Homo sapiens: one gene and its partner. The protein of the gene in region 2 binds, or shares a complex with, the protein of the main gene of each other region. Each region holds a gene or a part of one and is shown on either strand. Other genes may lie near its edges.

Evidence for each region.
Region 1: PRPF19 (region 2) and ISY1-RAB43 share a complex: the UniProt entries of both Homo sapiens proteins name them as parts of the XAB2 complex.

Annotation. Positions count from the first base shown.
Region 1 is NC_000003.12:129,133,423-129,137,242, forward strand, and holds part of ISY1-RAB43 (ISY1-RAB43 protein), read right to left. Parts: intron 3,775-3,820; coding exon of another isoform or gene 3,709-3,774; intron 1,533-3,708; coding exon 1,410-1,532; intron 774-1,409; coding exon 652-773; intron 1-651. Other genes in the region: pre-mRNA-splicing factor ISY1 homolog, read right to left, coding at 652-773, 1,410-1,532, 3,709-3,774. UniProt on the Homo sapiens protein: Component of the spliceosome C complex required for the selective processing of microRNAs during embryonic stem cell differentiation. Required for the biogenesis of all miRNAs from the pri-miR-17-92 primary transcript except miR-92a.
Region 2 is NC_000011.10:60,893,014-60,896,602, forward strand, and holds part of PRPF19 (pre-mRNA-processing factor 19), read right to left. Parts: intron 1-3,589. UniProt on the Homo sapiens protein: Ubiquitin-protein ligase which is a core component of several complexes mainly involved pre-mRNA splicing and DNA repair. Required for pre-mRNA splicing as component of the spliceosome.

The DNA of each region.
Region 1 (3,820 bases), on a different chromosome or scaffold from region 2:
CAATGGTTCACACCTGTCATCCCAGCACTTTGGGAGGCCAAGGCAGGTGGATCACAAGGTCAGGAGTTCGAGACCAGCCTGGCCAATATGGTGAAACCCCGTCTCTACTAAAAATACAAAAATTAGCCATGCGTGGTGGCACTCGCCTGTAGTCCCAGCTACTTGGGAGGTTGAGGCAGAAGAATTGCTTGAACCCGGAAGGCAGAGGTTGCAGTGAGCCAAGATTGTGCCACTGCACTCCAGCCTGGGCAACAGAGCCAGATTCCGTTTCAAAAAAAATAAAAAAGATGGGGGTGTTAGACTACAGAAGAGCAACTGCCACTGACACGTGAACAGAAGTGATGAGGTCATGGGCTAAAGCTCATGGCTTCCTCTGTGTTTATCAGTCTAATTCTAGTGTATGCAGAAGGGCCTGTCTTTAAGAAGGAAAGAAGGAAGCCCTGGTGTAAAGCACGGCCGGCAGGGCACTCTCATGGCTGCTGCCTCCTGAAACCCTCCTGTAATCTCGCAAGTGTTTTCACAGCCATCCTGCAGGTGAGCAAGCTGGGCTGTGAACCCTGACTCTGTATTTGGGAGCCAAGTTTCCTCCCTGCCACACTTCATGGCTTGGAACAGATGGCAGTGAGTGCCAGAGGGGGCCAACCCCAATACCTCCTCCTCGGTGACTGCATAGATGTTGATCTCTTCCTCCTCTTCCTCCTCCTCTTCCTTTTCTCCTCTTGCCAGCCGAGCCTCTCTCTCTGCTTTCCACTTTTCCACTAACTCGGCTCTGACTGAACACAAGAGAGGGTAGGTGCTATTTATTTGTCTCTAAATGAGCTTTCAACACTATGCAGGGAAAGGCCAACACTATGCAGGGAAAGTCTAGACATCCCCTCTAGAAAGGGACACCCTTCATTCTGCCCCCGTGGGTGGAAATGGATGTGAAGCATGGTAGTCCTACAACAGCTCTGGCCTTCAGTCACTACAAAGCAGCTTTTTAGGGAACATTCCCAAATCCTCCCCACTTCCACAACCTGAGTGGATTCCCAACATGTCCACATGAAAAGAGAGAAGGCAGGGGCAGAGCATGCTAGAAAGCAGCTCCAGCTCCAGACCACTTGCTTCCAAAGTCCTGGCCTGATGTGTCACATGGGCACTGGTATTAGCACGAATCCACATGGTGACCTCCTAGCAGACAGGGACCGGTCAGACGTGGCTCTCATGGCTTCCCCAACCTGTTACCTCTGGCCCACACAGCTTTGACTGCCTCACAGGGGTCAGGGAATTAGCAGACCATCACGCCTGAAGATCATTAGCAACAAAGAAAACTCCCTTCTGGCATAAAGCACTATTGAAAATCCTGTTTTCAAAGGACACAACAGAAAACAGATGCCATCTATTATGAAATAAAATGCCCAGAGACCTACGTTTCTTTTCATATTCCTGTTCCAAAGGCACAATAACACCATCATCTTCATCTAGGTAACCATAGTACTCAAAATCGATTGCCTTCATGAGCTCAGCACGTGTCTTTCTGGGAGGAGGAAGAGCTATAAGAAACAGAAATGGAGCTGAGTTTCCAAGTCATAATCACACTCCAGCGAAGCTGTCTCCTGATGCAACGCTATACACACACGTGGCACGTATGTTCATGAAAATACCAGGTGGGCGCAGTGGCTCATGCTTGTAATCCTAGCGCTTTGGGAGGCCCAGACAGGTGGCTCACAAGGTCAGGAGTTCGAGACCAGCCTGACCAACATGGTGAAACCTCGTCTCTACTAAAAATACAAAAATTAGCCGGGCGTGGTGGTGCGCACCTGTAATCCCAGCTACTCAGGCTGTGGCAGGAGAATCGCTTGAACCTAGGAGGCAGAGTTTGCAGTGAGCCGAGATCACGCCACTGCACTCCAGCCTGGGCGACAAAACAAGACTCCATCACACAGAAAAAGAAAATACCATGGATAGACACTTTTCTATACTATTCATGGAATTATTTAAGTGGTAGAGCCCTTTTTAAAATCAGTACTTGGACCCATTTGTCCGTTTAAAAGCAATCTACCTAAGTAAAAAACAAAACCAGGCCGGGTGCGGTGACTCATGCCTGTAATCCCAGCACTTTGGGAGGCCGAGGCGGGAGAATCACGAGGTCAGCAGTTCAAGACCAGCGTGGCCAATATGGTGAAACCCCATCTCTACTAAAAATACAAAAATTAGCCAGGCATGGTGGTGGGGGCCCCTGTAATCCCAGCTACTCCTGAGGCTGAGGCAGGAGAATCGCTTGAACCCAGGGGACAGAGGTTGCAGTGAGCGAAGACTGCACCACTGCACTGCAGCCTGGGCGACAGAGCGAGACTCCATCTCAAAAAAAAAAAAACAAAAACCAAACACGAGATAGCAAAAAGCTTCATGTACAGAAATATGCATCACAGTATTATTTATATAATAGAGAAAACTTGGGAATAACCTATGATTGTAAATTGCAGAATATGTATGGGATGGGATATCCTGCAGCCCCTGTAATGCTATTTCACAAAGTATTTTAATAACACAGGAACTGTCATAATGTTTAATGAAAAAGCATGACAGGAAACATAAGTAAATAAAAAAGACAAAAGAAGCTAGAAACAAACAAAAAAGATACATGAGAAAGCCCTAAAGAAGATATTTTCAGACTAGGACTACAATCCAGAATATTTAAGTAATTCTTTTTTTTTTTTGAGATGGAATTTCGCTCTTGTCCAGGCTGGAGTGCAATGGCATGATCTTGGCTCACTGCAACCTCTGCATCCCGGGTTCAAGCGATTCTCCTGCCTCAGCCTCCCGAGTAGCTGGGATTACAAGCACCCGCCACCACACCCAGCTAATTTTTGTATTTTTAGTAGAGATGGGGTTTCACCATGTTGGCCAGGCAAGTCTCGAACTCCTGACCTCAGGTGATCCACCCGCTTAGGCTTCCCAAAGTGCTAAGATTATAGGTGTGAGCCACTGCACCCGGCTAAGTAATTATTAAAAATGAAAAACAAAATGACAACCAACCAGATTGGTGAAAGAATAAAAGCTGGCCAGGTGCAGTGACTCATGCCTGTAATCCCAGCATGTTTTTTTCTTTTTTTTGTGGGACGGAGTCTCGCTCTTGTTGCTCAGGCTGGAGTGCAATGGCGCAATCTCAGCTCACCACAACCTCCGCCTCCTGGGTTCAAGCAATTCTCCTGCCTCAGCCTCCTGAGTAGCTGGAATTACAGGCACGCACCACCACGCCCGGCTAATTTTGTATTTTCTTCTTCTTCTTTTTTTTTTTTTTTAAAGACAGAGCCTCGCTCTGTCACCCAGGCTGGAGTGCAATGGCGTGATCTCAGCTCACTGCAAGCTCCGCCTCCTGGGTTCACGCCATTCTCCTGCCTTAGTCTCCCGAGTAGCTGGGATTATAGGCACCTGCCACCATGCCCAGCTAATTTTGTATTTTCTTCTTCTTTTTTTTTTTATTTTTTATTTTTTAATTTTATTTTTTTAGACAGAGCCTCACTCTGTTGCCCAGGCTGGAGTGCAATGGCGCGATCTCAGTTCACTGCAAGCTCCGCCTCCTGGGTTCACGCCATTCTCCTGCCTCAGCCTCCCAAGTAGCTGGGATTACAGGTGCCCGCCACCATGCCCAGCTAATTTTTTGTATTTTTTTTTAGCAGAGACGGGGTTTCACCATGTTAGCCAGGATGGTCTTGATCTCCTGACCTTGTGATCCGCCCGCCTCAGCCTCCCAAAGTGCTGGGATTACAGGCATGAGCCACCGCACCTGGCCTAAAAAAATAAAAAAATTTTTAAGGCCGGAAAGGAACATACCAAA
Region 2 (3,589 bases):
ATGTGTCACATAATGACATGTCAGCGACGGACCACACAAACACTGGTCCCATAAGATTACAGTGGAGCTGAAAAATTCCTATCACCAAGTGATGTCATAACCATCATCATGTCACAATGCAATGCATTATTCACGTTTGTGGGGATACAGGTATAAACAAATCTACTACACTGCCAGTTGTATAAAAGTATAATATAGCTAGGCGCGGTGGCTCACGCCTGTAATCCCAGCACTTTGGGAGGCCGAGGTGGGCAGATCACGAGGTCAGGAGTTTGAGATCAGCCTGGCCAACATAGTGAAACCTCATCTCTACTACAAATACAAGTACAAAAAAAAAAAAATTAGCCAGATGTGGTGGCACACGCCTGAAGTCCCAGCTACTCGGGAGGCTGAGGCAGGAGAATCACTTGAACCCAGGAGGCGGAGGTTGCAGTGAGCCAAGACCATGCCATTGCACTCCAGCCTGGGTGACAGAGCAAGACTCAATCTCAAAAAAAAAAAAAGTATAACATAATTAGGTACAGTACGTTACTGGTTTATGTACAGACATATCTCAGGGACATCGCTGGTTCAGCTCCAGGCTACCAATAAAGCAAATATTGCAATAAGGCAAGGCACACAAATTTTTTTGGTTTCTCACTACATATAAAAGTTATGTTGGCCAGGCATGGTGGTTCATGCCTGTAATCCCAGCACTTTGGGAGGCCGAGGCAGGTGGATCGCTTGAGTTCAGGAATTCAAGACCAGCCTGGCCAACATGGGGAAACCCCGTCTCTACTAAAAATACAAAAATTAGCCGGGTGTGATGGTGCCCACCTGTGCTAGAACCTGGGAGGTGGAGGTTGCATTGAGCCAAGATCGTGCCACTGCACTCCAGCCTAGGCGACAGAGCAAGACTCCATCTCAAAAAAAAATGTTATGTTTACACTATACTGTAGTCTATTAAGTGTGTAATAACATTATGTCTAGTAAACAATGTACATACCTTAATCAAAAATACTTTATTGCTAAAACATGCTAACAACCATCAGACACTTCAGTGAGTTGTCATCTTTTTCCAAGACCCACCAGCAGGGTCTTGCCTTGATGTCGATGGCTGCTAACTGACAAGGGTGGTGTTTGCTGAAGGCTGAAGTGGCTGTGACAATTTCTTAAAATAAGACAACAAAGAAGTTTGCCACATCATTTGATTCTTCCTTTGACAAAAGATTTCTCTGTGATGGATGCTGTTTGATAGCATTTTACCCACAGTAGAACTTTCAGAACTGGAATCAATCCTCTCAAATTCTGCACCTGCTTTATCAATTAAGTTTATGTAATATTCTAAATCCTTCATTATCATTTCAACAATGTTCACGGCATCTTCACCAGTAGAAGATTCCATCAAGAAACCACTTTCTTTGGTCATCCCTAAGAGCTCCTCATCCATTAAAGTTTTAACATGAGATTGCAGCAATTCAGTCCCATCTTTAGACTCCCCTTTGGATTCTAATTCTCTTACCATTTCCTCCACATCTGCAGTTACTCCCTCCATGGAAGTCCTCAATCCCTCAAAGTCATCCATGAGGGCTGAAGGGTTGGAATCAATTTCTTCCAAACTCCTCTTTATGTTCATAGTTTAACCTCCTCCCATGAATCACAAATGTTCTTAAGGGCGTGTAGAATGGTGAATCCTTTCCAGGTTTTCAATTTACTTTGTCCAGATCCATCAAAGGAACCACTATCCAGGGCAGCTATAGCTTTATAAAATGTATTTCTTAAGTAATAAGACTTGAAAGTCAAAATTACTCCTTGATCCATAAGCCGAAGATTGGATGTTGCAGGCATGAAACATCTCCATCTGAGCTTTAGGGTAATGAGGTGCACTGTAATATTTTGAAAGGAATCTATTTTTCTGAACAGTACCTCTTAATGGGGGGCTTAAAAAATATTCAGTAAACCATGCTGTAAACAGATGTGTTGTCATCCAGACTTTGTTGTTCTATTTACAGAGCACAGGCAGAGTAGATTTAGCCCCACCTTCTTAAGGGCCCTACAATTTTCAGAATGCTAAATGAGCTTTGGCTTCAATGTAAAATCACCAGCTGCATTAGTCCCTAACAAGGGAATCACTCTGATCTTTGCATCTTGGAAACCAGGCATTGACTTCTCTCTAGCTGTGCAAGTTCCAGATGTCACTTTCTTCCAATAGAAGGCTATTCCGTCTACATTGAAAATCTGTTGTTGAGTGTACCCACCGTCAATGATCTTAGCTAGGTCTTCCGGATAACTTGCTGCAGCTTCTACAACAGCATCTGCTGCTTCACCTTGTACTTTTCTGTTATGGAGATGGCTTCTTTCCTTAAACCTCATGAACCAACCTCTGCTAGCTTCAAACTTTTCTTTTGTAGCTTCCTCACCTGTCTCAGCCTTCACAGAATTCAAGAGTTAGGATCTTGGTCTGGATTATGGTTTGGCTTAAAAGAATGTTGTGGCTGGTTTGATATTCTATCCAGACCACTGAAACTTTCTCCATATCAGCAATAAGGATGTTCTGCTTTCTTATCATTTGTGCGTTCACTGGAGTAGCACTTTTAATTTCCTTCAAGAATTTTCCTTTGCTTTCATAACTTGACTAATATTTGGTGTTGAGGCCTAGCTTTTGGCCTATTTGGCTTTTCACATGCCTTCTTCACTAAGCTCAATCATTTCTAGCTTTGGATTTTAAGTAACAGACATGGGACACTTTCTTTCACTTGGACACCGAGAGGCCATAATACGGTTATTAACTGGCCTAGTTTCAATATTGTTGTGTCTAAGGAAATAGGGAAGTCTGAGAGGGAGAGAGATGGGGAACGGCTGGTGGGTGGAGTGGTCAGAACACACACAGCATTTCATTTATCAAATAAATTCAGTAACTTTTATGGGCACATTTCATGGTGCCCCCCCGCCCAACAATTACAATAGCAACATCAAAGATCACTAACGGACACAATAAATCATGAAGAAGTTTGAAATACTGTAAGAATTACCAAAATTTGACACACAGACACAAAGTGAACACATGTTGTTGGAAAAATGGTACTGACAGACTTGCTTGGGGCAAGGTTGCCAAAAACCTTCAATTTATAAAAAGCAAAGTATCCATAAAATACAATAAAGCTAAGTGCAATAAGACAAGGTATGCCTATACTATACTTTTTTTGGTATTAAATATACTCTTCCCACTTATAAAAAAAAGTTAACTGTAAAACAGCACCAAGCAGGCCCTTTCAGGAGGTATCCGAGAAGAAGGCATTATCATCATAGGAGATGACAGGTTTATGCATGTTGGTGCCCCCGAAGACCTTCCGGTGGGAAAAGATGTGGAGGTAGAAGACAGTGATGTTGGTGCTATGGTTAGGCTTTGTGCCGCCACCCAAATCTCATCTTGAATTGTAGTGCCCATAATCCCCACGTGTTGTGGGAGGGAGCCAGTGGGAAGTAACTGAATCATGGGGGTGGTTACCCCCATGCTGTTCTCATGATAGTGAGTTCTCACGAGATCTGATGGTTTTATGAGGGGCTTTAGCCCCTTTGCTCAGCATTTGTCTCTCCTGTTGCCATGTAA